Homo sapiens: one gene and its partners. The protein of the gene in region 1 interacts with the protein of each later gene in a biochemical or structural test. Each region holds a gene or a part of one and is shown on either strand. Other genes may lie near its edges.

Region 1 (7,026 bases):
GTTATTTGATCTCTGCAGGCAAACTGCTTGGGGCTGCAAGTCTTAGGGGCTAGGGCAAGGAAAGAAAAGGGGATATAAATGAAGGATGGAGGCCAACTCTGTGAACCCAAAGTCCCCTAGTACTGCTCTTCCTTCCCTAGCATCAGTCTCCATCTGGCCCAGACCCTCAGCCATGGTCTATGTGCCTGGGGGTGTCAGGGGGTGGCTTTGGGTAGTTCCTAGACACTGTGTATCTGCGGTGGGGGTGGGGAGGATCCAGAAGCACATTTTACTGCACCCCTCCAAGTCCTCTAGGCTGCCTGTTCCTGGGAGTCAGGGTCAAAGCCTTTGCTATTCTTGGTTACTCTCATCAGACACCAGCACCCCCTGGCTTTGATGACAGAGTGATGGTGAAGGGGGGTGCATTTAGGCCTTGACATGTTTTCTCTTTGTCTTCCTCTAACTCCTACTACTAGAGGCCCCGAGCTGGTCTTATCTAACCTCTCTGCTTCCCTGCCTTCTGGGACACTCCTGGTCCCCTGACCCATCACCCCATCCTTCCCAACCCCTAATCACTAGGCCCCCAGATGGGAGCAGTGGGGAGGGATGCCCTTGGCACACACAGTAGTAGTTGGAGATGGTATTAGCAGAGGCACAGGAGGGCAAGGCTGGGCAGGAATGGGCAGGGTAGAGAGCCTTGCTTCCATTTCCATTCCCTATTTTTTTTTTTTTTGAGACAAGGTCTCACTCTGTCCCCCAGGCTGGAGTGCAGTGGCACAATCTCAGCTCACCGCAACCTCCACCTCCTGGGCCCAGGCGATTCTCCTGCCTCGGCCTCCCCAGTGGCTGGAACTACAGACATGCATCACCATGTCCAGCTAGTTTTTGTATTTTTAGTAGAGACGGGGTTTCACCATGTTGGCCATGCTGGTCTCAAACTCCTGACCTCAGGTGATCCACCTGCCTTGTCCTCTCCATTCTCTAAAGACACAGCCTCCCTTGGTTAGACCTCAGGGAGACTTTCAGTAGACATCCTTAGAGTTAAGAAGCACCTAAAGATTTTCAAGATATCAGAATTGGGGAGCAGAGGCAGGGGGATGGCTGAAATGAACTCTAGGAACTGGTTTCAGTCCAGTCCAACTAGTTAGCTACTATATTCAGGACCTCTTGGCCCTACCCTCCCACCCCAATCAGGCTTCTTCCACTCCTACCCCATTCTCTTCCCTCATCCCCCAAGGAGGAATTAAGAATGGTGACAACTAACTCTGTTGTTTTTTTTTTTTTTTTGAGACAGAGTTTTGCTCTTGTTGCCCAGGCTGGAGTGCAATGGCACGATCTTGGCTCACTGCAACCCCTGCCTCCCGGGTTCAAGTGATTCTTCTGCCTCAGCCTCCAGAGTAGCTGGGATTACAGGCATGCGCCACCACGCATGGCTAATTTTGTATTTTTAGTAGAGACGGGGTTTCTCCATGTTGGTCAGGCTGGTCTCGAACTCCCAACCTCATCTGATACATCCATCTCAGCCTCCCAAAGTGCTGGGATTACAGGCGTGAGCCACCGCACCCGGCTGACAACTAACTCTTATTGTGGGCTCAGTATGTGCCAGGAACTGTGGTAAAGCAGTTTTTTCCATGTATCATCATATTTAATTCCCTCCACAGTATGACAAATAGGGACAACTAATACCACCATTTCACAGATGAAGAAATTGAGCCAGGTGACTTGGCCAGGGTCAAATAGCTGGCAAGTGACAAAACCAGCTAAGCTGACTCCAAGCTCTGAACCAGTGAAATCCACACCAGTCCTCCGAATTCCCACTCCTCCCAACCTCTATCACCACATCCTCCACAGGAGGAACAGTCACCCACCCCTTCTCCCCCACCCAAGGCTGAGCTCCCAGTCTCCTGGCCTTTCGTGGCTTTTCCTCAGACTGTGCCATCACATTTCTATTCTGCTGGCACACACTGAAGGCCAGCTCTATGCCAGGCACTGCACTAGGCATCAGGGTGCCAAGGAGGGTGAGATGACCCTCTGCCCTGCAGGAGCCAGAGTCGCCTGAGAAGACAGCTGTACCCAACTAATGCAAATGCAGGGCAGAGACAGAAGTATAAGGAAAATGGCGGGGGGGGGGGGCTCTTAGGAGGGAGGGAGTCTGATGGGAGCCTCACTGAGATGTCTTCCCTCCTAACCCCCACCGCTGGCAGGGGAGACGGCACTCAGGCCCCTGGCCAAAATGACCGAGTTCAGGAAACACATCAAGGATGGCCTAGCCAGGCTCCCCCTTCAGCCTCCCTCCCCTGGCCCCCACCCTGAGCCTGGAATAAAGGCCCCTTGAGGAGGTGGATAATGCTGAGTTCATTGCCCCACTGGGCCAGCTGTGAGGTCTTCCCGGGAAACACAGCCCGCCAGCCTAGTTAGCATGCCGGAGAACCGTCCGCTTCCCCTGACCAGCCGTGGCCGGCTGAGGGGGAAGAGGGGGGCTGGAATGGGACTCAGAGGCAGATGAGATGTTTGGAGCCCAGAAACAGACCCCCGTGCCACCCACCTGGGACTTGGTCCATGCCCTGCTCCTCCCAGGGGCAGAGCGCACAGCCACGGCCTGAGGTCACCGGGTGGTCACCTAACCTCCCCTCCATTCCACATCCCAGCCATGGTGCCCCCTCCTTTAGCCCTCACTGAGTCCCCCCCGCTGTCCCCCACCCCCATTTTTGGCCTGAACTCCACAGAGGAAACAGCAGCTGGCAAACTCCAAAAGCTGGAATGAGAGAGATTCACAAACCAGATGTGCTCTTGCAGGGAGGGGATGGGGGATGGGACAAGTGAAAGGAAGAGGAGGGCCCAGGCCCCTATCCCACAGCAGCACCGGGGGAGGGGGCCACATCTCCCGAGGGCCTGGCCAGCACAAGGATTGCAGAGAGATACGTGAAAGAACTTCCTGTCAGGGCTGGTGTTGAAGGGCCCAGGAATCTGGAGCGAGAAGGCTGAGGCCTGTCTTTGATTTCCTTCAGGGGGAGAGGGAAGAAAGAAACAAATAAACTACTTTGGGACAGTCTACACAGCCAAGGGAAGCCTCACTCAGAGCTGGGAGAGAGCTGAGTTGGGAGCGGGGTAGGACCCTTATAATCTGCTTAGAGGGAAAGCCAACCCCACTCCCCTCAGCAGAGCCTTCTGTGTCTGAATCCAGCACCCAGAAAACCCACCTTTGTGGCCTGCAGTTTAGATGAGAGAACAACATTGCCCTAAGGTCAAAAGCAACTAAGGCCTTCCCCGCCTCCTGGCCCGCATGAGAGAACCCGGAGGTCTCCCTGACCGATGGGAGCTAACCTTTTTCACCTTGCTAACCACCAGCCACTGATTGGAAATACGGTGACTATTAACTCACTTAGATACTATAACCCTGTGAGGTGGGTGCCCTTGCGGCCCCCCTCTCACACATGGGGGAGCTGAGGCACAGGGTGACTGGTAACTGAGCAGGTGGTTTCCTCATAGGTCATGGGATGCAGCCGGGTTAAGAAAGGAAACCAGGCCGGGCATGGTGGCTCATGCCTGTAATCCCAGTACTTTGGGAGGCCGAAGCAGGCAGATCATGATGTCAGGAGATCGAGACCATCCTGGCTAACGCGGTGAAACCCCGTCTCTACTAAAAATATGAAAAATTAGCTGGGCGTGGTGGCAGGCGCCTGTAGTCCCAGCTACTCAGGAGGCTGAGGCAGGAGAATGGCGTGAACCAGGGGAGGCGGAGCTTGCAGTGAACTGAGATCGCGCCACTGCACTCCAGCCTGGGCAACAGAGCGAGATTCCATCTCAAAAGAAAAAAAAAAGAAAGAAAGAAAGGAAACCAGATGGGCGCAGTGGCTCCCGTCTGTAGTACCAGCACTTTGGGAGGTGGAGGCGGAGATGGGCGGATCACTTGAGGTCAAGAGTTTGAGACCAGCCTGGGCAACATGGTGAAACCCTGTCTCTACTAAAAATACAAAAATTAGCAGGAGGCGGAGGTCGCAGTGAGCAGAGATCACGCCATTGCATTTCAGTCTGGGTGATGGAGTGAGACTGTGTCTCAAAAACAAAACAAAACAAAAACAAAAAACAAGGAAGGGAAATTGCAGGGAGAACGCTGTCGTTCTCTGGCCCTGGCAGTGGGGAGAGGATTTTAAGGGGTGGCCTTCAGGGCTCCTCAGAGAGGAGGGAAGGGCATAGGGGAGACAGAGAGGAGCAAGAATGGGACAGAAGAAGGGGAAGACAGGCAGGAGAAGAAGAAGGAGAGATCTAGAGAGGAAGGAGAGAGAGCGAGTTTGGAGGAAGAACACCAGGACACAGGGGCCGTCTGTTCTCGGCTTTGCCTGAAGATGAATGTGACTGCCATGCTAACTTGGCCAACACCCTGCCCCACCCCCCCAAACCCAGGCACCCAGCCCAGCCACGGTCCCCAGGGCCACCAAGCTGGAGCCAGGGCAGGAGGTGTAGAGTTGGGTGTGCGTCCAGACACAACACAGACCCCACTGCCCTGCTTGACCCTTGGCTGTCATTCTGTGTCCCATTCTGGGACCTTGGGGGTGGGGAAGTGGGGTGAGAATGCCTGGCCAGAGAGGGTGACAGCGAAGTCCAACCCTGAAGGAGTCTTCTCCAGAGGAGGGGAACCCATCCTTTGATACCCCCTTGAGGGAGCGAGAGCAAGGAAGAGAGCTAAGACCTTAGAGGTGCTTCTTAAAGGACAAGGAGACTCAGGGACTGCAAAAGCATGACAGGGACTCTTGGGGCCCTTTTTAAGAGTGGACACAGCAGAAGGAGAGATAGGCTCCCCTCTGAGCTAGGTGAGAGGGGGGTTCTCTAAAGGGAACCACATGATATAGCTAAGGGAACAGAGTGGGAGGAGGATGCTCAAGGTGCGGGGGGTGGGGTGGGGGGGCGGCGCGGGGACAGAGCCTGCAGGAATCTGAATTTTCGACCTTATGGGGGTGGGGCAGCAAGGGCCTCCCAAACCCAAACCGAGAGGTTTTCACTGAATTTTTTGTATTTTGGGTGTTGCCCAGTGGCTCTTTCCTGAGGCTCAGACACATTTTTGTCATTCCTGAGTCTGGGCCTCTGCTTTGCGGCCTGGACAGACAGACAGACAGGGTGGCTTGGACAGCCAGGGGAGGGGAAGGGTCTCCGCTTCCATTCTGAGTCAATATTGATGCAGCAGGACATTAGCCTGACCCGTGACCTCCCCCACCAGCTTTTCCTTTCCCCACAAATAAAAGCCAGACCCCCAGAAGGCCTCCAGAGGTCACCATATCACTCACCAGGCATTTCTAAGCCTCCTCTCCTTCTCCCCCCACCCCAGCCACACACACAGCTTATGCTCACCAGAGTAAAAGCTCCAAGTTCTTGACTCACTCCTTACATCTTTCTCCAGTTCTTAGGCTCCTGGTCAGGAGGAAGTTCTGCCAGAAGTCTAACCTCCCTCCTTCCTTCTGAAATACCTCCTTTCTCCCTCTTAGCCCACAAAGGGTATCAAGTTCCTTTCTTCCAGAAACATTCTCTCCAAAACCCATTCCCCAAATTAGTGGAGGGGGAAGAAGAAAGAGGAAGTCGGAGGAAAGTGGAGAGGAAACTTTTGGTGCTGAACTGGACACTGGGTCTGGCCAGGAAGGGGGAAAAATAGCCAAAACAGAGGGGAGGGAGCCAGGGGGTGAGTGGGAAAGCCCAGAGAGACTCTTGCTCCCAAGAAGCTTTTGGGATACCAAGAGGCCTGGATGGGGGTAAATGGAGACAGGCAGAGAAAAATAAGACAAGTGACAGAGACGCAGAAAGCAGGGCAGAGAATGTCACAAAGGTTCGGCAGTAAGAGATGAACTGAGAGGGTGAGAGACAGAGAGGTTCTAAAAAGCCAAGACAGCGCACACTAATGACAGACAGACAGAAAGACAGACAGACAGCCAGAAAAGCCAGGAAGGGGGCTCAGTCCAGAGATTGCCAAGGGGATGACACAGTTGTCCTGGGATGAACCCAGAGAATGACTACCCCGCTGAGCCTAGAGTAGGGTGGGAGCAAGATCTGTCCTATCTTGGAGAGACAGAGTCTCGGCCCTAGGCAGTGCCTGACTCAAGGGAGACCCAGAATAGGGACCACTACCACCCCTGGAGTCAGGAGGGTAGAAAGGAGGGAGGAAAATGGAGCTCTTCAGCCAGGGAAGCTAAGGCCTGGTGGGAGAGGGAGAGGCTTTCATCTCCCCTAGGGGAGCAAGAGGGACAACTCTCCACATATACCCCTCACCTCTTTCCCAGGGAGGGTTTATATTGGTGCCTGAGGCCATTGCACCGGAAACACTCCAAAGCCAACTGCTTCCTTCTCCAAACAATGCAGGATCCTGCTAACCAGGCTGAAATCTGGGACAGAAGAGGGAGGCAGGTTCTCTATCGCTCATACCCAGCACTACCAAGTCAGGGGCCTTCCTGCAGTACCATTCAGCTGCACCCAGATGCCCCAAGAGCAATGAGCCCACACGCAGAGCTGGAGGACCTGAAAGGTAAAGAGTCTGAGGAGTGAGGAGGACCCTGAGAAGAGAGTACTGGGCGGGAATAAACCTAGGCTTGGGGGTTCTGATGTGCAAGGGCTCACACTGCAGCAGGAGGAAAGAGAGATAGACTTGAGTAAGGAAGGGCTTCCCAAAAGGTAAGGAAGGGGTTTTGAAGAATGGGGGCATCTGGACAGGAACTGACTCTGGCCAGGACCTGGGCTGTCATCCTTTGGGAGGCTCAGTGGTGGAAGGGTGGTTGAGAAAATGAAGAGAGGAGAGAGAACAAGATCAGAAGAAAAAGATGTCTAGTGAAGCAGCCCTAAACATCAAAATATCCCTCCAACCCCAAAATGAATTTCTTACACATTCTTGCTTTAAAAGACAACGAGGCAAAGGGAGACGTTTAGGATGTGAGTCTGATCAGGGAGAAAGGAGTTTAGAACTTTCTCTCAGGGATCCAGGAAGCTAACACCCCAGCTTCATAACTCACTTCCACTGTACCTACTCTAGTAACTGGTAATATGCCGGCTCAAGGGGGTGTGTGGAGG
Region 2 (7,026 bases), on another chromosome or scaffold:
AGAGAGACCCTTTCTCAACAACAACAACAACAGTTTACTTTTGCATTTCTGAAAGATAAAACTCTTAAAAAAAAAACCCACCACAATATCATTATTGTACCTACAAAAATTTAATAATAATTCTTTAATATCATTAAATATCCTGCCAAAAAAAGGCTGGATTGAGCCTGGGCACAGTGGCTCACGCCTGTAATCCCAGCATTTTGAAAGGCTAAGGTGGGTGGATTGCTTGAGGCCAGGAGTTCAGAAACAGCCTGGTTAACATGGTGAAACCCTGTCTCTACAAAAAACACAAACATTGGCTGGGCATGGTGGCTTATGCCTGTAATCCCAGCACTTTGGGAGGCCGAGGCAGGTGGATCACGTGAGGTCAGGAGTTCGAGATCAGCCTGGCCAACATGGTGAAACCTTGTCTCTACTAAAAATACAAAATTAGCTGGGCGTGGTTACAAACGCCTGTAATCCCAGCTACTCGGGAGGTTGAGGCAGGAGAATCACTTGAACCCGGGAGACAGAGGTTGTGGTGAGCTGAGATAGAGCCATTGTACTCCAGCCTGGGCAATAAGAGCGAGACTCCTTCTCAAAAAAAAAAAAAAGAAGGAAAAAAAAAATGTAGAGACAGTGTCTCACCATGTTGCCCAGGCTGGTCTTGAACTCCTGTTCTCAAACAATCCTCCTACCTTGGCTTCCCAAAGCACTAGGCTTACAGGTGTGAGCAACCATGTCTGGCCTGATCTATCTGTTAAAGTTATGTTTGATCAAGTTCCCCTTCTATTTTTTTCGTTGTTGTTGTTTGCAGTTTTGCTTTTGTTTTTTAACTGGAGAATCATGTTGCTTGTCCTGAGTTTTCTATGGTTTGGATTTTTCAGACTCTCTCCTGTGGTCATATTTACCATGCTCCTCTTCCCCTGGATTTCCTGTAAATTGGTAGTTAGTTCTAGAGCCTTGATCAGATTCAGATTTGAGCATTTTTGTGTTTTGCTTTTGCAAGAATATTTCATAGGTGGTATTAAATACTTCTACTAGGCCGGGCGCGGTGGCTCACGCCTGTAATCCCAGCACTTTGGGAGGCCGAGGCGGGTGGATCATGAGGTCAGGAGATCGAGACCATACTGGCTAACAAGGTGAAACCCCGTCTCTACTAAAAATACAAAAAATTAGCCGGGCGCGGTGGCGGGCGCCTGTAGTCCCAGCTACTCGGGAGGCTGAGGCAGGAGAATGGCGTGAACCCGGGAAGCGGAGCTTGCAGTGAGCCGAGATTGCGCCACTGCAGTCCGCAGTCCGGCCCGGGCGACAGAGCGAGACTCCGTCTCAAAAAAAAAAAAAAAAATACTTCTACTAAAGGCAAAGTCTGATTGCCTCTCTTTTTTGTGATGTTAGTGGCCTTTGGTGGTCATTGTCTCAACTCCTTTTAAAAGGAACAGCCCCTCCTGCACTCCAGCTGATTATTTTTGGGATTGGGGTGAGGAAAAATATAGTCTCAATGCAGCCAGTTAAAGGGAAACTGAAAACTAGATATTGGTGTAAAATAGCCCAATTTCTAAACGTTAACAACAAATTCTATTTTTTAAAAAGCACTGTGCAGGCCACACACAATCTATCTGAGGCTTGCATCAGTCTGCAGGTTGTAGGTTGGAAGTTTGCAAGACTAGGGGGTGTGAGTCAGTGACCAAATAGAGGCCTAGTTGCTCACTTGCCCCTGGGATGGTCACTGTGGGGGCTGCAACTCTGAACTACCTATGAAGCTTCTAGGAGTAGGGGGATAGTACTGCTGAAGAGCTGGGGCGGGTTTGCTGGGCAGTGACCTCAGCAAGGATGTTGGAGTGGCAAGAGGATTCTCAAGGATCATGCACTGGTGGAGACATTGTGAATTGAGGATAGAGGTGGGGGCCAGCCCAGGAAAGGGGCCAAGTCACTCTTTTACAACTGTGTTGCTATGACCATGAGGGCTGCAGAGAAGGTTTGTGCTCCTGCAGAAATGAGGCTAGAATTGAGCAAAAATTATATTCTCCTTCCTATTGTAGGATATTCATAGAGCTATGGATTGAATGCATAAATGCATGAATTCATGAATTAAATGAATGATGAATGAATAAACTTTACTACCTGTATTGAATTCATACTCTGCTCCAGGCCTTATCGTAAATGCTGGAAATGTATACTATGGGGCAAAGATGTTCTTACCTCCTGGCCTTCACAGCCTGGTGAGGAGACAAAGAAAGAAACAAGTGGTTATGATCAGTGCGATGAGCTCTCTGGGGCTGGGGAAGTACAGGAGGGGCCCCTGACCCTGCCTGTGAGAGTGGTGGGGGAGAGGGCAATGGGTCAGTTTTAAGAAGGGACCTGTATACTGATGTCTGAAGGAGAGGTAGGTGATAGCCAGGTGAAAATCGAGAGTAAGGGAGGTGGGCTGGGAGAGGACAAGGGGGCATGTCCCAAGCAAAGAGAGAGAAGGGGAGTGGCTGGAGGTAAGGCTGAGAGGCAGACAGGGGTTCATGACAGCACATAAAACCTGGGGAGGAATTTGGACTTTATCCTGAGGGCAGTGACAAAACAATTAAGAGGATTCCGTTGGAAAATTACTTGATTAGTTTAGCATCTCAGAAGAATCATTTGGGCTGTACTGTGCAGCTGAGATTGGAGGAGACCAGATAGGAAGAGAAAGACCAGTTATGATGTTTTTGCAATGATGCAGGTTAAAAAAAAAAAAGCTAGTAGCCTGGGCTATGTTAGTTATGTGGGGTGGAGAGAAGGGGAAAGCTTTAAGTCAATCACTGATTCCTGAGCAAGTGAGTACACCTGGCTTCACCACTAAGGCATTTGTGGATGAACGAATGAAGGAAGGAAGGAATGATACGTGAACATTTAATGTATTTTATATGTAAGTGTCGCATGAATCGATGCAGGAGTGAAGGTGTGCGTTCTGGAATAAATGCATGTGTGTGAAAGCAAAGGCCGGGGTGGGCTGCGCTTGGAGGGAGATGTGCCAAGCTCCAGAAGGGCCTCCCAGATGGCCAAGGGGGGAGAAACTGCCCTTCCAGGACAGATCGGAAGGATGAAGCTCTTTGAAGCAGGAAGGTACAGGCTGACAGGGATGGCAGATGGATTGGTGTGTGTGACTCAGTCAGGAGATGGTGAACTGGTCCCCAGATTCCAGAAGTGTCCAGCCAGCCCTCATGAAGCAGGCTGTGGCTGTGGAGGGCATGGAGGCCCTAGGGTGCTGTTCCTGGAAGGTTTTAGCAGGAGAGTCCTGAGGCAATGGAGGGTCTCTAGGGAACAGCAGGTATTCCCTGAGCCTCAGCTAAGTTTCAGGTGCCTATTGAAAACCTTATTCCATAGAGTGTGAGTTAGGGGGAAGTGGGGGTGAGGAGAGGCGGTGATGGCTGCCTAGAAGGTGGATGGGCAAGAGCCCCTCCTCTTTGGGTGTCTGTGGGCCCACGTCATTTGGAAGCTGAGGATGGTGAAGCACCCTGCCTGAATAACTCTCGTCAGGTGTGCAGCCACCTTGGCGTAACCACGCCCACTCCCAGCCCTGCTGTGTCTGGTTGCCCAGCAGCAGGGTCTTGGGACTGCCTGTCCCTTAGTACTGCCTCTTGGACCAGTCAGGATTCCTGGTTTCCCTGGTAACGGGAAGCACGTCAGCAGTCTGGGCGCTCCCAGCCGGTCCTGGTGCTGCGGTTGCCGAGGAGACGCTGCAGCCTAGCTGGGCCCTGGCAGGTGAGGGGTGGGGGGTGGTGCTGGGAAGCCCCAAGCCCAGCCTCAAGCTTGCTGGGGCTCAGGACCTCAAAGCCCACCCTTGGGTTCAAACTGCTGTGCAGGTCCTGGACAGGGGCGGGATCCCTGAAGGCCTTGAAACCACACCCTATTTATGCTGACAGCTATAGGCTCTGCAGGGCCCCAGGCAGCTGGGGTATTCCTTAGGGGCTGAGTCTCCTGGTATCCCTAAGACTGGGCTTGGCTTAGGCACTGAGGTAACCACTGGAGGGTGGGATGGAGATTCAGGATTGGGGGAGGGGAGCCAGGGCGAGGAAGAAGAGGTGTGAGCAGAAGGGGCTGGGGTCTCATGAACCTCCCTTTCTCCTCCCTTCCCCACCCCCCAAGGAGATTCCCTAGCATGGTGGTCCTGGCCCCTCCCTAGCAAGCTCCAAGCGGGGGAGGATCTTGCCTGGCAGACGCTCTGCCCTGGTGAGAAGGGGGCGGGATGAGCTTTTCTCTGCAGCCCAGCACCAGGCTGTGAGCCCAGCTGGCTGGGCTGGAGGGGCTGTGAGGAGGGAGGGTGGAGGCAGGAGGGGCCGGGAATGAGCGCCATGTTCTCCCAGGACTTTTTCCTGGCCATTATCCTGCAGGACAGCAGCGCAGGTGAGGGGCAGCATGAGGTTGGGCCTCATGTGGGGTGGGGCTGACAGGGAGAGAAGAGTTAGAGGACGCATGAGCGGGTTACAGGGTTGGAGTGGTGTGGCTCTGCCGGCAGACAAGGGTGTATGACACAGATGCGAGGTATGTGTGTATGTGCATGACATGTTTGCTTGCATCTGTGTGCAGCAAGGGTCAGGAAGTGAGCGTCTGTGGTGTCTGCACACATTTGGCAGGGTTTGACGTGTGCCGTGTGTCTGAGTGTGGGTCCGCCTGTGTGTGTGGTACCCACACGTGTGTTGGGGCCATTGTGGTGTGGTATCTGCACACCTGTGTGGCAGGGGCTCGTATGTTTAGCTGCATGCACACACACCTCTGTGGTGTCTGCATAAGTGTATGGCTAAAGTTTGTGTGTGTGTGCCCCTGCACATACATGTGCACCTGTGTGTGATACCTGCCATCTGTGCTGGCATTTTCTGTGTTGCATACCCTGGTGTTTGTGGCTGCACAGGTGTGTGGTAGGGCTTGTATGTGTTGTGTGTCTGTGTATACATGTACGTGTGCAGGAGCTAGAAAGTGTTCACCTTCGTGTTAACTGAGATAATAGATATGTATGAAAGGAGGTTAATTGGGGTCACCCAACATTCATTGCTCCCTTCCTTCTTCCCTCCCTGCCTTCCTCCTTTCCACAGTGTGGCCACATTAGCCACCAACAGGGCCCAGGAGGAGACCTGAGCCATGTCCCCTACTGGTGGCCCCACATGTGGTGACTCCAGACTATAGGCTCTAGGCAGAAGCAGGAACTGTGTTGTGGTATAGCTCTTCCACCACCCCTTCTCAACCATGGGGTCTCAGAGGGGACCGGGCATAGGCACCAGCTGTCTGCTCTTTGGGTAGGCTGACCCTCACCAAGCCTCCCACCTGGCAGATTCCTTCTGGAACCCCAACGCCTTCGAGACGGATTCCGACCTGCCGGCTGGATGGATGAGGGTCCAGGACACCTCAGGGACCTATTACTGGCACATCCCAACAGGGACCACCCAGTGGGAACCCCCCGGCCGGGCCTCCCCCTCACAGGGGAGCAGCCCCCAAGAGGAGTCCCAGGTGAGGCTCACAGGCCTGTTGATTTTGGGCCAGGGGTGGAGGGAGTGTGTGCTGCTGGAGTAGGATAGGACACTCACTCACTACTCCCATCCCTCCTCCTAGCTCACCTGGACAGGTTTTGCTCATGGAGAAGGCTTTGAGGATGGAGAATTTTGGAAGGTGGGTAAGGGGACCTGCTTTACCACGGGATAGCTGGAGGAGGGGCATCATTTTGATACTGATTCCTCAATCCCCTTCCCAAGGATGAACCCAGTGATGAGGCCCCAATGGAGCTGGGACTGAAGGAACCTGAGGAGGGGACGTTGACCTTCCCAGCTCAGAGCCTCAGGTGAGCTGCCAGATGCAGTGAGCTGGCAGTGGGATGGATCTGTCTGGAAGGGGCCTTGGGACAGCTCCATTTATGGGAGCCCTGTGCCAAGTATTACCATCTGCCTTCAGCCCAGAGCCGTTGCCCCAAGAGGAGGAGAAGCTTCCCCCACGGAATACCAACCCAGGGATCAAGGTTTGTTCAAGACTGACACCCATTCTGAGTCTGGGGCCCTCTTATTTGTCAGACAGCCCCTAATGTTGTGCTCTGAGGGGTCTCAGCGCAGTTCCCCAGGTCCTGAGTTAGGAGTTCTTCCAGTCTCAGCACAGAGCCCTGTGTCTGAGCTGGAGGCACTTCAGTTTTTAAATCAACCAGCCCAACAGCCAGGTTGGGGGCCCTTGTAGTCTTAGTTCAGGTGCTTTTTTGTACTAGCTGGGGTCTCATCTGACATCTCCCTCACCCTAACCACATCCCCCTCTCCCTAACCACATCCTGTTTGGGGAGCTTCTCCGTCTTAGTTCAGAACACCCTGCCTCCTGCCACACTCTGTAGTCAGGAACTCTCCAGTTTTGACTCAGATCCTCTACCTCCTGCCCCTCTTCTGTGTCTGGCAGTGTTTCGCCGTGCGCTCCCTAGGCTGGGTAGAGATGACCGAGGAGGAGCTGGCCCCTGGACGCAGCAGTGTGGCAGTCAACAATTGCATCCGTCAGCTCTCTTACCACAAAAACAACCTGCATGACCCCATGTCTGGGGGCTGGGGGGAAGTAAGGACCTGAGCCGGGGGTAGGGGGTGGTACTGTGAGAGTGTGAAGGGAATTATGAGAGATGGGAGGTCTGACCTGCCCACAAGCAGGCTGGGGAAGGGGGATATTGGCCCATCCTAAGTGGCAGCCCTGTGGGATGGATGAGCGACCCCAGGCCAGGACCTTGGGAGATAGTCGCCTAACAACGGTGGAGTCAATGTGAGAGATGACACGTGACCTCCACTAGAGTGAGGCCTGCAGGGCGGGCGGTCTGACACCAAAGCAGGGGCCCCAGAGCTGTGGCTAACATCCCCTGAGCTGCAGGGGTCAGAGATCAGCCACCATCCTGGCTGGAGTCCCACTGAGTGCCTGCTTCTGGTCCTGCAGGGAAAGGATCTGCTACTGCAGCTGGAGGATGAGACACTAAAGCTAGTGGAGCCACAGAGCCAGGCACTGCTGCACGCCCAACCCATCATCAGCATCCGCGTGTGGGGCGTCGGGCGGGACAGTGGAAGGTGG
Region 3 (7,026 bases), on another chromosome or scaffold:
TTTAAACATTTATTAATGACTCCTACTTATTAGGTTGGTGCAAAAGTAATTGCAGTTTTTGCTATAAAAAATGGCAAAAACCGGCCAGGTGCGGTGGCTCACACCTGTACTCCTAGCACTTTGGGAGGCCGAGGCAGGTGGATCATGAAGTCAGAAGATCACAACCATCCTGACTAACATGGTGAAACCATGTCTCTACTAAAAATACAAAAAATTAGCCAGGCATAGTGGCAGGCGCCTGTAGTCCCAGCTACTTGGGAGGCTGAGGCAGGAGAATGGCGTGATCTCCTGGGAGGCGGAGCTTGCAGTGAGCCGAGATTGTGCCACTGCACTCCAGCCTGGGCAACAGAGCGAGACTCCGTCTCAAAAAAAAAAAAAAAAATGGCAAAAACCACAATTACTTCTGCACCAACTTAGTCAATAATAAAAGGCTAAAGTTTCTCAAAGCACCAATTTTGTGTTAATTAAGCAAAAAAAAAATTTGTTATAGTATCCTCCTTACAGTAGACTTTTTCTACTATTTCCTATGCAAATATGATAAAATGATTTTTAAATAAATTCTAAGTATATCCCCAAGATAAAATCAAAGTAAAAAAAAAAACATAGAAGATGAAGTTTAAACTCAAAATCACCATAATCTACCTTTCTAGCCATCTTTGGACATTCTCTACTTTGCATTATACAGTAAACAAAATTTAATATTTGCTATCGCTTTTCACCCTATCATCCCCGCCCACAGCTACTGCTTATCTCCGTGACTTTGGATGTCTTCTTCCCTTTGCCTGAAAACATGAAATTACTTGTTTAATTGTCTCATTACCCTATTGCAATATTCGTTCCTAGAAGACAATGTAATTAGCTTATATTCATTTTTGTACCTCCTGTGCCAATATAGTACCTAGTACATACACAAAGCCCAACTGGTGTCAATTGACTATTATTGGAATTGAAAATTACACCTAGGTCAGGAATTTCTAACATTTCCAGTTCTAGGGAAATCTCACAAGGTTAAAAATGTTTCTGGGAGCTTCTAACAGGTTTTTTTTTTTTTTGGAGGAGGGGGAAGGACTATTGCAGTAATAGGGTTTTTTTATAAACTAAGGCATAAAAGGAGGGAAAAAGAGAAACAGAAGCCCCATATCCCTGAAATTACTGACACAGCTTACCCTACCCTTCCTAGATGACTCAATTCTTGCCCCATAAAGTCTACTCCCCACATAGCAGTATCCTTAAAGCACTTCAATGAATTAAATGAGTTGTTTTGTGGTAAAGTGCTTAAGACAGTACAGAATCGTCACTACAAATTATTTATAAAACAAAAATCGGACAGGCGTGGTGGCTTATACCTGTAATCCCAACACTTTGGGAGGCCGAGATGGGTGGATCACCTGAGATCAGGAGTTAGAAACCAGCCTGGCCAACATGGTGAAACCCCATCTCTACTAAAAATACAGAAAAATTAGCCAGGTGTGGTAGCGGGCGCCTGTAATCCCAGCTACTTGGGAGGCTGAGGCGGGAGAATCGCTTGAACCCGGGAGGCAGAGGTTGCAGTGTGCTGAGACTGCGCCACTGCACTCCAGCCTGGGCAACAAGAACAAAACTCCGTCTCAAAAAAAAAAAAAATCATTGAATCCTCACAACTCTATAAGTAGATTCTAATAATACTCTCATATTATAGCTGAGGAAACTGGGGCAGATAGAAGTGAGGTGACTTGCACAAGGTCACACAGTGAGTGAGTGATAGAGTAAGGATTTGAACTCAAGCATTCTGGCACTTTTTCTTTTTTGAGACTGAGTCTCGCTGTATCGCCCAGGCTGGAATGCAGTGGTACGATCTCAGGTCACTGCAACCTTCACCTCCTAGGTTCAAGCAATTCTCCTGCCTCAGCCTCCCAAGTAGCTAGGACTACAACAACCTCGAACTCCTGGGCTCAAGCAATTCTTCCACTTCAGCCTCCCAAGTAGCTAGGACTACAAGCATGCACCACCAAACACAGCTAATGTTTTGTTTTGTTTTGCTTTGTTTTGTTGGCAGAGATGGGAGTCTTGCTATGTTGCCCAGGCTGGTCTTGAACTTCTGGCCTCAAGCAGTCCTCCTCCTTGATCTCCCAAAGTGCTCGGATTACAGGCAAGAGCCACAATGCCTGGCTTGAACTGCAAAATTCTTAAAAATGGGGATCATTTCTTATTCTTTATTCTAGTGTCCATGATTCCTAATCATAGTGTAGGCACATAATAAATGCTAAATAAATTTTAAAAAATAGTTTTACTTTACTTTTCAGTCTTCTGAAACCAGCAGTTCTGACCCTATCATCTAAGTATAGTTTGGCTATTTTTCCCTCAATAAATAATTGTGTACTTATCACATGTAATCATTGACCACTTTTCTGGCTAGTCACATGGCTTCGCAAAATGTTTCTGCAGTTGAACATCTATCAGCTTGCCTTTCTATTTCCCCAAAGTAATTCCTAGATATTTTACTGTACAGTTTTTCTTTAGTATTGTTTTGAAAAGATCTTAATACTGATCCTTGAAGCAATCTTTAGAGAACTGTTCCATTTACCTGACTCTCTCCAAGAGGTGTTCCATCTACTCCTTCTCCTTGTTTCTGATATCTTAGCCAGTTTCCTATCCATCATAATACAATGTGTCCATCCTCATTCTCTCTTTCTCAAATTGTATTTAGTGAAGAACCATGTTTACCACTTTTTGAAAGCTGAAACAGATCATGTTACTGCTTCTCTTTATTTAAAACATCCCATTATGGCAGGCACAGTGGCTCATGCCTGGAATCGCAGCACTGTGGGAGGCTGAGGTGGAGGATCACTTGAGCCCAGGAGTCCAAGGCATGACTGGGCAACATAGTGAGATCTCGTCTCTACAAATAATTAAAAAAAAAAAAAATTAGTCAAGTGTGGTGGTGCATGTCTGTAGTCCCAGCTACTCAGGAAGCTGAGGCAGGAGGACCACCTGAGCCCAAGAGGTCGAGGCTGCAGTGAACTGTCATAGTGCCACTGTACTCCAGACTGGGGGACAGAGCAAGACCCTGTCTCAAAAATAAATAAGTACATTGGGTGTGGTGGCTCACGCCTGTAATCCCAGCACTTTAGGAGGCCGAGGTGGGTGAATAACTTGAGCTCAGGAGTTGGAGACCAGCCTGGGCAACATGGTGAAACCCCGTCTCTATGAAAAATATGGCTAATAAAAACATTAATCAGGTGTGGTGACACACACCTGTAGTCCCAGCTACTTGAGGGGCTGAGACAAGAGGATCACTTGTACTCAGGAGGTCAAGGCTGCAGTGAGCCAAGATCGTGCCACTGCACTCCAGCCTCGGTGACAAAGTAAGACCCTATGTCATAAATAAATAAATATAAAAACATTCCATTATATTATTATGATATCTATCAGTTTGCTCAGTCATTTAATGAACACTTACTGACCACTGTGTGTCATGCACTAGACAAAGCATTAAAAAAACATTAAAGACACATGCATGCATGTGTTCACTGCAGCACTATCCATAACAGCAAAGAGATCGAATCAACCTAAATGCCCATCAATGGTAGACTGGACAAAGAAAATGTGGTGCATATACACCATGGAATACTTTGCAGCCATGAAAAAGAACAAGATCATGTCATTCGCAGGAACGTGGATGCAGCTGGAGGCCATTATCCTTAGCAAACTAACAAAGGAAGAGAAAACCAAATACCACATGTTCTCACTTATAAGTGGGAGCTAAATAATAACACATAGACACACAGAGGAGAACAGACACTGGGGCCTACTTAGGGTGGAGGTTGAGAGGAAAGAATCAGGAAAAATAACTAATGGGTACTAGGCTTAATACCTGGGTGACGAAAAAATCTGTAGAACAAACCCACATGACACTGTTTACCTATATAACAAACCTATACATGTACCCCTGAACCTAAAATAATAGTTAAATGAAAGAAAATAAGAAATAAAATATATGTTCTTTGACTCAGAAGAGCTCAAAGTGAAGTAGAAGGAGGAGACATAAGTGAGAAAGCATATAGAAAAAAAAAGTTATTTATAATGATTCAGGGCTTGGAATTTTAAGTCACACAGACCTGGATCGAAATCTTCACTTAAAGAGTTGTATAATGCAGAAGTCAAGGTTTCCTCATTTCTGAAATGGGGATAATAACCATTTCATCTCTTCCTTTTTACAAGGGGACAAGATACAGTGCTTAGCTTGGCAATACATGGGAATACATTACAGGCAATCTGTAAATGATGTATAATATAGACAATAAGAGAACATCTATCCTAGGTAAAGCCTGCTTCCTGGAGGAGCTAACTGTTGAACTGAGTCCTAATCAATGGCTAGGAAGTAGAAAGAATCCAGATAGAACTTTAGAGAAAGATTAAGTTTCCATACTAACACTAAAGACTCCATAATCTGATCTCCACCTACTCAGGTTACTACTCAGCTACCTCTTCTCTCTTGAATCTCCTAAAGGAAACTTTCCTTCTGTCCAGGCTGGTTTACTCACTAACCTCAGAATATGCTCTGCTTATTTTCTTCTCTCTATTATTGCTTAGGCCATACTCATCCCTGACTCTGGCCCTAGCCTAAAGCCTGTCCATTCCAGAAGACCCACAAGTTCCACGTTCTTTTAATTGACCATTTTAATGGTTCTCAGCAGTGTCTGCATTCTTGAACTTTCCCAACACAGGGTCAGATTACCATGCTCCTTTCCGCACTTCCTTTGCCCTCCCACTAACTACCTCCTCATCATTTTCCTTAACTATCTGCACCTTTGCAGTGAGATTTAATTTTTCATATGTGAACATCATATCTCTATTGGATTGTAAACTCCATGAAGGCGAGACTTTGTGTAAGCAAGAGAAAATAGGGCAAGGATATAGCATTTAGCCTCACATCTATTTGATATGTGAAGAAAGGAATAGATCAGAAAACTGCTAGCAACAGTTTCAGTTAGCATGAAACCCAAAGCCTATGACAGGTCTACAAGGCTTAAATGATAGAACTTAATGGGGCATCTTGATTTTAGGTACTCACCTTGATATGCCCTCAGCTCTATCAAGAGCAAGCAATAAAAACTTTCCACTGTAGGTTGTATTAGTCATTTAAGATGCCTCAAATGCTTCTGGGAATAAGGCATGATATAATAAAATAAAGGTCAGGGGAAAGGTTGGCAGTCAACTTCTTAAACATGGCTACTGCAGTGGAAAGTAGTATATGGTATAGCAGAATTAACACACCTGGGTTAAAAATCCTTTGAAATTTACTGGCATTAGAAACTGGGCAAGTCCTTAACCTCCCCAAGGCAATTTCCCAATCTAATAATGTGGATTAAATATTTATTACTCAGGGTTGCTGTGAAGATTAAATGAGTATGTATGTATGTATAGTATATATACAGTATATATATGTATGTATAGTATATATACAGTATATATACAGTATATATGTATGTATAGTATATATACAGTATATATATGTATGTATAGTATATATACAGTATATATATGTATGTATAGTATATATACAGTATATATATGTATATATAGTAACTAGCACACTACCGGAAAGACAATACCTCCTTTAGTATTCATTATTAAAACACTGCCATCAACCCATCATCTTTTCCAAGGCCTTTAAAGAAAGTAAGAAAATAAATATTCTCTTCCCTCTTTAAAGATGGCATATCAGGAGTAACTTGCTGAAACCCATTGAGGACTCGGACCTAAAAACAAGATTCCTAATCATAGTACTCAATGTACAGTAAGGTTGTCTTTATGGCCAATCTCTTACCTGTTGCAGTGCAAAAAAACATATTAAACAGTCTTGTCACACTTTTTAGAGTAACTGAGTTTTGAGACGCATTAAGAGACTTTCAATTTGATAAAGAAAAAGTGAGAGCCTTAGATACTATAATCAAGCTGGACTCCTGTAGAAAAAAACAAGATTCCACTAAAGATAAAAGGTAAACTGTTCAACCCTTGAAGACATTTGAGATTGTAGCCACTGCCTTTGTAATTCTTCAGCTCATACTATTAGTCTAAAATGGCAGGAAATAAAAACAAAACGAAGTTCCAAATGGTAGGAAACATAAAATAACATAAATAATCATAAAATGAGCCAAAGAATGAACTCTTAGAGATGGAAGAGACCTCTGAAGTCATCTAGCCCAAGTCCCTTCTTACAGTTGAGAAAGCAGACAACAGGAGAGATTCCATGCTATTAGGTTGGTGCAAAAGTAATTGCGGTTCTGCCATTGAAAGTAGTGGTACTTATGGCTGGGCGGGGTGGCTCACGCCTGTAATCCCAAAACTTTGGGAGGCCAAGGCAGGTGGATCACTTGAGGTCAGGAGTTTAAGACCAGCCTGGTCAACGTGGTGAAACCCTGTCTCTACTAAAAATACAAAAATTACCCGGGCATGGTGGCAAATGCCTGTAATCCCAGCTACACAGGAGGCTGAGGCAGGTGAATTGCTTGAACCTGGGAGGCAGAGGTTGCAGTGAGACAAGATCGTGCCACTGCACTCCACCCTGGTGACAGAGTGAGACGCGTCTCAAAAAAAAGAAGAACAAAAGAAAGTAATTGTACTTTTGCACCAACCTAATACATGTCAAGCTTCTTTTGCCTCTTCACTCTGTTGTCATAATTTCCCCAAGATTTCATTACTTCCCTTGCAGTAAGCAGATCAGTCAGGAACAGGTTCGACTGCCTTATAATATGGGCCCAAACACTGGAAATATCCACAATTCTTGTCCCTGACAGAACACAAAGGGGGAATGGTACACATGTTCTCGGATCTGATTAAACATCAGGTTCCTGAGTACACAGCTATACAAACACAAAGAGTGGGCAATGCTGCCTACAAAAGAAATGCATACTTAGAGGATTTTCATATTTCTTCCATAGATAGAAAGATCCTTATGGGACCATCAAAATTATGTGGAAGTTTCTAGTGGTGATTAGTTTCTAGTGGTATTTTGAGACAGTCTCCTCCCTATATATCTTCATG
Region 4 (7,087 bases), about 48 Mb from region 1:
GAGGCTCAGAGCAGTTAACTGAGTTACCCAGGACCACACAGCTAAGTTAGAAGTAGGGCTCAGGTGTCCTGGCAACTAACTGGTCCAGTTATTTTTTCTCTCAAGCTCGTTTTCCCTCTCCTAAAGAATAGGAGGCTCTGTCGTGGTGAAAGGCGATTTTAGTAATACTTTCCTTTTTATCTGTGATTATAATGAATGCGGCATCTCTCCCATTAAGGATCATTCCTCCACCCACATTCTTAATACATCTGCTGCATGCATCCTTCAGAGACCTCCCTCTGGGATCATCCCTTCTCACTCCAAAAAGCTCAACTTCTCCCCTGTCATTTGTACCTCCCACTCAGCATTTTTAGAAGCAATATTTCATTCAAACTTATTCAAGTTTATTTCCACCTAAAGAAATATTCCTTTCACCCTGGCATCTCCGTCAGGTACTGCTCTGTTGTTTTTCTCCCCTTCAGACAAACTGCCAAACTGGCTCTAGTTCCTCACATTCCCCATCACCCTCAGCAAGCTTCTGCCCCACACCGGCACTGAAACAGCTGAATCCCAATGTCCTTGTCCTTAAACCCAGCAGAAAAAAAAAATCAATCAATTATTTGATTTCACAGCGGCACTTGACATGGGTAGCCAGGAATTTATCAATGACAACCTTTACAGATCATCTTTGTAATTTATCATGAGGCATCAAATGAATGCTATTAACATTAATCCCTCCTATTTTAAGTCATTAATCCAAGTAAATGCTCACTTATTTCTAGCGTCTTAGAAACCATTTAAATTATGTTACATTATGAATCAATACATTATAAAATTATACCATCATTTGTAATAATTTTTTAAAATGTTGTGTGCTATTAACATTGATGCCTTGGTATAAAGTCATGATCATTCTGGTCTAGTAGCAATCTTCTATTGACTATTCTCTTACTAAAGCGGTCCCTTCCGTGGGACTCAGAGACCTCACACTCTCCTGCCTGTGTTTCTTCCTCTCTAATTGGCCCTTCTTGCTCCACTTGGGTGCTCCTGCCCATTGCCTAGACAAGAGCATTCCCTGTAACTCTGTCTTGGGCTCTTTTTCTCTTTTCATCAACATCTTCTACGTGGGTATTATCATCCATTTCCATGGCATCAGCTTGCCCAATAAACTGATAAATCCATAGTCTCTATAAGTACAGCAGATCTCATCAAGCTAGTGGCATTCAGACTGCTTTAACTTTAACCAAAAATAAGGGATTTTGTACATGTTCAATAAGCAGTTCCCACTGTGACACTGTAATCACATTTTCACAATTGTGACCTAGGACACTTAGAGTAAAGGATACAGATGATTGAGACAGAAATAGTGACAAAGAAAAATAAGGTTAGGATATAGATTTTAATGCTGTAACAGACCTCAAAATACAATGGCTTAACTAAGAGAATGCATTTCTCTGTCACATAAAGGTCCCAACTGGCGTAGACTTTTGATGACTCAAGGGCTCAGGCTGTGCCTGGTTTGTGGTTCTGCCTTCCTTAACACATGGCTTCCATCTGATGAGCTACAGCAGTACCTATCACTAGTCAGCATGTCCACATTCCAGCCTGGGCAAGGAAGAAAGGGGAAGCGCAGAACTGTACCCTTCCTTTTTTAAGTCATGAACTGAAAGTTGCATGTATCACTTCCACTTGCCCTCCAGTCACCAGAACTTAGTCATATGCCATACCCAGCTTCAAGGGAGTGGGTTAAAAACATAGAAGTCAACTAGGCAGTCTGCACCCAGCAAAGGATCGGGAGTTCTATTATTAAAGCAGAATTGGAGAAGTGGTAACAGGAAACAACCACCAGCCTCTGCTGCATGTATATGAAACAGATGTTTCCCAAATCACTATTCTCACTTATTCTGTCTGATACACTGTATTTTTTATTATATTCTCTTTCATTTTTTAAAATCCTGGTCATGACTCACAGGGCATGATGTTACAACCCACTTAGATGCTAACACCATAATCTGAAAAATATTACCTATATTATGTCTAATATTGGCCACTTGAAGTATGGCTAGCCTAAATTGATCTATGTTGTAAGTATAAAATTCACACCAGCTTGTGAAAACAAATTATGAAAAAAAAGTCTTTAAGATATCATTAACAATTTTATATTGGCTAAATGTTGAAATGATCATATTTTGGATATATTGGATTAAATAAAATACACTATTAAAATTAATTTAATGTTTCTCTTTATGTGGTTACTAGAAAATTTAAAATTTAAAATTACACAGGGCGATCACATTCTATTTCTAGTAGACCACACTGCTGTAAGCTCAAGATTCAAATGTCAAACTCCTGTGAATATTAATACGTGAATATCCCACAAGCACTTACTCCATCTTCCCAACCCTCAGCCCTTCTGTCCTCCTTCTGCTCCCACCAATCTGTGTTTCTTCTGTTTCACTCACCCAGCTAAAGGCAACACAATTCACTCCGTGACGAGCCAGGAAAATGGAAAGACACATTTTCCTTTATTCCTCACATTGATATATTCACTGAGCACTATAATTACCTCTTAAATATGATATAAATCTGCAAGCTCTTTTCAATACCACCACAAATTCCATAGTTCAAAATGCCATCAGCTTTCACCTATATTATTACACCAGCTCCCATCTGGTCTTCCTGCATCCTGGATCACCTCTTTCTAGCTGCCCTTTCAAATTTCAATAAGAGCAAGCTTTCCAGGAAACAAACCTGAAGTCAATCCACTGAGTACTCCTCTGAATACCTTAATATTGTTGACAAATTCCTTTCTGATTTGAAGTATCAGAAAGGAATATTTCCTCCATACCAAATAGTTTTCATTTCATGCATGTGCCGTGATTCTTCTCCCTCCTTTGCATCTGTCATTCGTTATGCTTAGAAAGCTCTTTTCATCTCTTTGTTCTTCGAGACAACCACTACTCATACTTCAGAGCTTAATTTACATTTTGCTTTCCCTCAAAATTTTTTTAAAAGGTTCCAGGTCTGGGTTATGTGCTCTCTTATGTGCTCCCAGAGCATCCTGAACTTCTGCAATAATATGTTTGGCTACTGTATTTTATACAGTAGTTTTATATTGTATTTTATACTGTATTTTATACAGTAGGTGTTATATTGTATTTTATACAGTAGTTGTTTTTCTGTCTGTTTTTGCCCCAACAAGAATGTAAAATCTTTAAGTGCCTGTTTTCATACTTATTTGACCACCCTATCTCTAGAATCTTGCATGATGTCTAGCCCTAGTAGGATCAAAAAATACTTACAAAGCAACTGAATAGCTACATGAATAGATGGATGAATAAATGCATGGGTGGATGGATGGATTAATGAAATCATTTATATGACTTAAAGTTTGCAGAGGAGTATCATATTTGGAAGGCAGTAAGGAAGTCTGTGTAGTCGATGGTAAAGGCAATTGGGAAGTTTGTTAGGCACAATAGGTCAAAATTTGTTTTTGAAGTCCTGTTACTTCACGTTTCTTTGTTTCACTTTCTTAAAACAGGAAACTCTTTTCTATGATCATTCTTCCAGGGCCTGGCTCTTCATCTGCAACCCAGTAATATCCCTAATGTCAAAAAGCTACTGGTTTAATTCGTGCCATTTTCAAAGAGGACTACTGAATTCTGATGTGGCTTCAAACATTTAGGTTAGGCATATCTAATGGAGAACTTGCAGCCACACTGACTTGTAGTGAAATATCTATTTTGAGCCTGCCCAGTGTTGCTTAAATTGTAGTTTTCCTTGCCAGCTATTCATACAAGAGATGTGAGAAGCACCATAAAAGGCGTTGTGAGGAGTTGTGGGGGAGTGAGGGAGAGAAGAGGTTGAAAAGCTTATTAGCTGCTGTACGGTAAAAGTGAGCTCTTACGGGAATGGGAATGTAGTTTTAGCCCTCCAGGGATTCTATTTAGCCCGCCAGGAATTAACCTTGACTATAAATAGGCCATCAATGACCTTTCCAGAGAATGTTCAGAGACCTCAACTTTGTTTAGAGATCTTGTGTGGGTGGAACTTCCTGTTTGCACACAGAGCAGCATAAAGCCCAGTTGCTTTGGGAAGTGTTTGGGACCAGATGGATTGTAGGGAGTAGGGTACAATACAGTCTGTTCTCCTCCAGCTCCTTCTTTCTGCAACATGGGGAAGAACAAACTCCTTCATCCAAGTCTGGTTCTTCTCCTCTTGGTCCTCCTGCCCACAGACGCCTCAGTCTCTGGAAAACCGTGAGTTCCACACAGAGAGCGTGAAGCATGAACCTAGAGTCCTTCATTTATTGCAGATTTTTCTTTATATCATTCCTTTTTCTTTCCTATGATACTGTCATCTTCTTATCTCTAAGATTCCTTCCAGATTTTACAAATCTAGTTTACTCATTACTTGCTTACTTTTAATCATTCTTCCCCAACTCTCTGAAGCTCTAATATGCAAAGCCTTCCTAAGGGGTGTCAGAAATTTTTAGCTTTTTAAAAGAATAAATTTTAGATATTCACATTCATATTGATCTACTTGAGACCATGCTATTTATCTTTTCTTATTTCCTCTTTCTCAAGGGTCCATTTTCTATTTTATAAAAATAAAGACAATTCTCTCCCACAACCAAACATGGAACAATGCCCTGGAGTATAAAAATCTATAGAGTGCCAAATAAAGGAACAATTTGAAATACTGGTGTTGATATTGAAAAAGCAAGGGACTCTAATGTCAGAAGAGAAATCCTTTTGCAGATGAGGTGGTGATGAATTCTTTGTTTCAACACAACTGAAGGAGGAACTGAAGGAAATACCAGCTGATGAGTGATGAGAAGGGATTCTTGATAATAGAGTACTAGGTGATTTTTGGCATGTAATGCAGAAGTTGCAAGAAGTGGTAACAATGATGCAATTGTTTTACCTGCCATTTATTTACTTTTATGTGAGCCATTCTTCTTAGCACTTATAGCTACACAAAACAAAAATAGTAACAGAATTAATGTTGTTTAATTCTTGCAATCCATGGATGCATAAATTCACTGGGGGAAAAAACAGCTCATCATTCTCATTAAAGATGTGCTTCAAAAGTATTTTAATTTTATATCTAATATGTATGAATCATACTTTGTATTTATTTTGTTTTGATCAGTTATATACAAGTATTTTTGAACATAGCTCAGTCAGAAGGAAATGTTTAATATTTATAAATTTATGGTTACATTCTATTTAAAAGAGGAGTTAAAGTTAAATTTACCTACCCACATATGTTACATATATATGTATTTATGTATATGTATTCATATATGTATATATGTGAACATAAGTATACATACGTATATGTATAGATGCTTGACAATAAAGAAGTAAGAATAATTCACAACATTTTTTGAAATATAAAAATTTAGGATAAATTTCTGTATGGTAATTGGCATGGAAATTCAAATTCAAAAAGGAAAAAAGAAGAGAAAGATATTAAATATCAGACCATTAAAAGAATTTTTTAATGTACTTTTAAATAGTGATAGTAGGTATCTTATACTACAGTGTTTATTATTCATGAGAAAATTGTAAAAGTAATCTAAGTATTAATTTAAAATATCATCAAAAATAATATCTTTTGCTATTACTTAAAATCATGATAAAAATATGTTTACTTGAAAATATGTAAGGAGTGCACAGAGTCCAAAAATTATTTTAGGAGTTCTGTGAGCAAAAATGTATAAAAACTACAGGGTTGATCTTAAATTACATGTCAGGGTACTGAGAAAGTTTCTGTACTGCACATGAGTTACCAAGGTCTAAAGTCAATCACCAGAGGACCATTTTTGGATGGAGCCATTGTCTAATCATGAGCTGAAAGGCAAATATTTAAAATGCAAACATCCATGGTTAGGTAACACTCTTAAGACCTTATTAGCTGCTTACCACAACTGAGACTGTGAAGTAATGGCTCACTTTCTTTGAGGCTCAGATTCCATATCTGTGGAGTGGAAGCGAGTGCTTACCATACAATTTTCACAGGGCTGCTGAATGTGTGTATGTATGTATGTGTGTATATATATTTTAATGAAAATTCTATAATTTGATTAGTTTTTGTAATGTCCGCATGACTGAGAGCTTGCTTACTTTTTACAGCAACTTGAAGGTAAAAATAGATTTTACAACATGAACAAATGTAACTACATATTTTTATTTGAATTCAGATGTTCACAAATTGTTCCTTAAAGTGAAGCATGCCTACAAGTTTTAATCTGTTTAAGACCTACCTCAAGTAAAATGTTCACTGCCATGGCATGTGAGGGAAAAGGGAAATAATTCTTATGCATGGCCTTCAACGGCCAAATTTCATGCTCATCAGTACATCTTCTCTTGGTGTAGAACTGATGATGATAATTATGATGATGGAAAAAAGTGCTGTTGATAGCAATGCCTCTCTTCCTTCACTTTCCTCTAACTGAACCGTCTCATTCCCAGGCAGTATATGGTTCTGGTCCCCTCCCTGCTCCACACTGAGACCACTGAGAAGGGCTGTGTCCTTCTGAGCTACCTGAATGAGACAGTGACTGTAAGTGCTTCCTTGGAGTCTGTCAGGGGAAACAGGAGCCTCTTCACTGACCTGGAGGCGGAGAATGACGTACTCCACTGTGTCGCCTTCGCTGTGAGTGTGGCTGTTTGACTTAATATACTTGGTTCTTTTAGTCAGGGTCATAGGGATCTAGTATTCTGTCAGATGAGGCTTTGGGAGGTTGGTAAGAACTGCAGGAAGGAATCCAAATGTAGCAAACTAAGTATAGAAATTAAGGAGCAATGCATGACTCTCCAGCCATGGGAGACAAATATTTACAGGCAAACTAAAAGTCAGCTTAATAATCACATAGAAACCCTATTAGCCAGAAAGGAAAAAAAAAAAAAGAAAATGTGACTTCTTAAAATTAAGATGGAAAAAATATTAATAAAGCAAACTAGACCAAGGCTCAACATGAGCCACCCGTGGTGGACTGACAGGAACACATCACTCCACACTACTTCTAAGAGTAAAAATTGTAGAAATTACCCTGAGCAAAGGTGTAATATCTCTTCAGAGTTGTCCACATGTGAGATGC

What was found.
Region 2: the proteins of LRP1 (region 1) and APBB1 form a complex in vitro, tested with the Homo sapiens proteins (2 studies listed by BioGRID and IntAct, with this or other methods).
Region 3: the proteins of LRP1 (region 1) and SYNJ2BP form a complex in vitro, tested with the Homo sapiens proteins (one study listed by BioGRID).
Region 4: the proteins of LRP1 (region 1) and A2M are reported together in a solved structure, tested with the Homo sapiens proteins (one study listed by BioGRID).

The regions. Positions count from the first base shown.
Region 1 is NC_000012.12:57,131,482-57,138,507, reverse strand, and holds part of LRP1 (prolow-density lipoprotein receptor-related protein 1 preproprotein), read right to left. Parts: intron 50-7,026; coding exon 1-49. UniProt on the Homo sapiens protein: Endocytic receptor involved in endocytosis and in phagocytosis of apoptotic cells. Required for early embryonic development. Involved in cellular lipid homeostasis.
Region 2 is NC_000011.10:6,402,078-6,409,103, reverse strand, and holds part of APBB1 (amyloid beta precursor protein binding family B member 1), read left to right. Parts: intron 1-3,440; exon of another isoform or gene 3,441-3,971; intron 3,972-4,170; exon of another isoform or gene 4,171-4,298; coding exon of another isoform or gene 4,299-4,359; intron 4,360-4,412; exon of another isoform or gene 4,413-4,481; coding exon of another isoform or gene 4,482-4,497; intron 4,498-5,281; coding exon 5,282-5,457; intron 5,458-5,559; coding exon 5,560-5,616; intron 5,617-5,699; coding exon 5,700-5,785; intron 5,786-5,895; coding exon 5,896-5,959; intron 5,960-6,378; coding exon 6,379-6,528; intron 6,529-6,894; coding exon 6,895-7,022; intron 7,023-7,026. UniProt on the Homo sapiens protein: Transcription coregulator that can have both coactivator and corepressor functions. Adapter protein that forms a transcriptionally active complex with the gamma-secretase-derived amyloid precursor protein (APP) intracellular domain.
Region 3 is NC_000014.9:70,407,065-70,414,090, forward strand, and holds part of SYNJ2BP (synaptojanin-2-binding protein), read right to left. Parts: intron 1-7,026. UniProt on the Homo sapiens protein: Regulates endocytosis of activin type 2 receptor kinases through the Ral/RALBP1-dependent pathway and may be involved in suppression of activin-induced signal transduction.
Region 4 is NC_000012.12:9,112,915-9,120,001, reverse strand, and holds the start of A2M (alpha-2-macroglobulin isoform a precursor), read left to right. Parts: upstream 1-4,082; 5' UTR 4,083-4,152; coding exon 4,153-4,238; intron 4,239-6,458; coding exon 6,459-6,642; intron 6,643-7,087. UniProt on the Homo sapiens protein: Is able to inhibit all four classes of proteinases by a unique 'trapping' mechanism. This protein has a peptide stretch, called the 'bait region' which contains specific cleavage sites for different proteinases.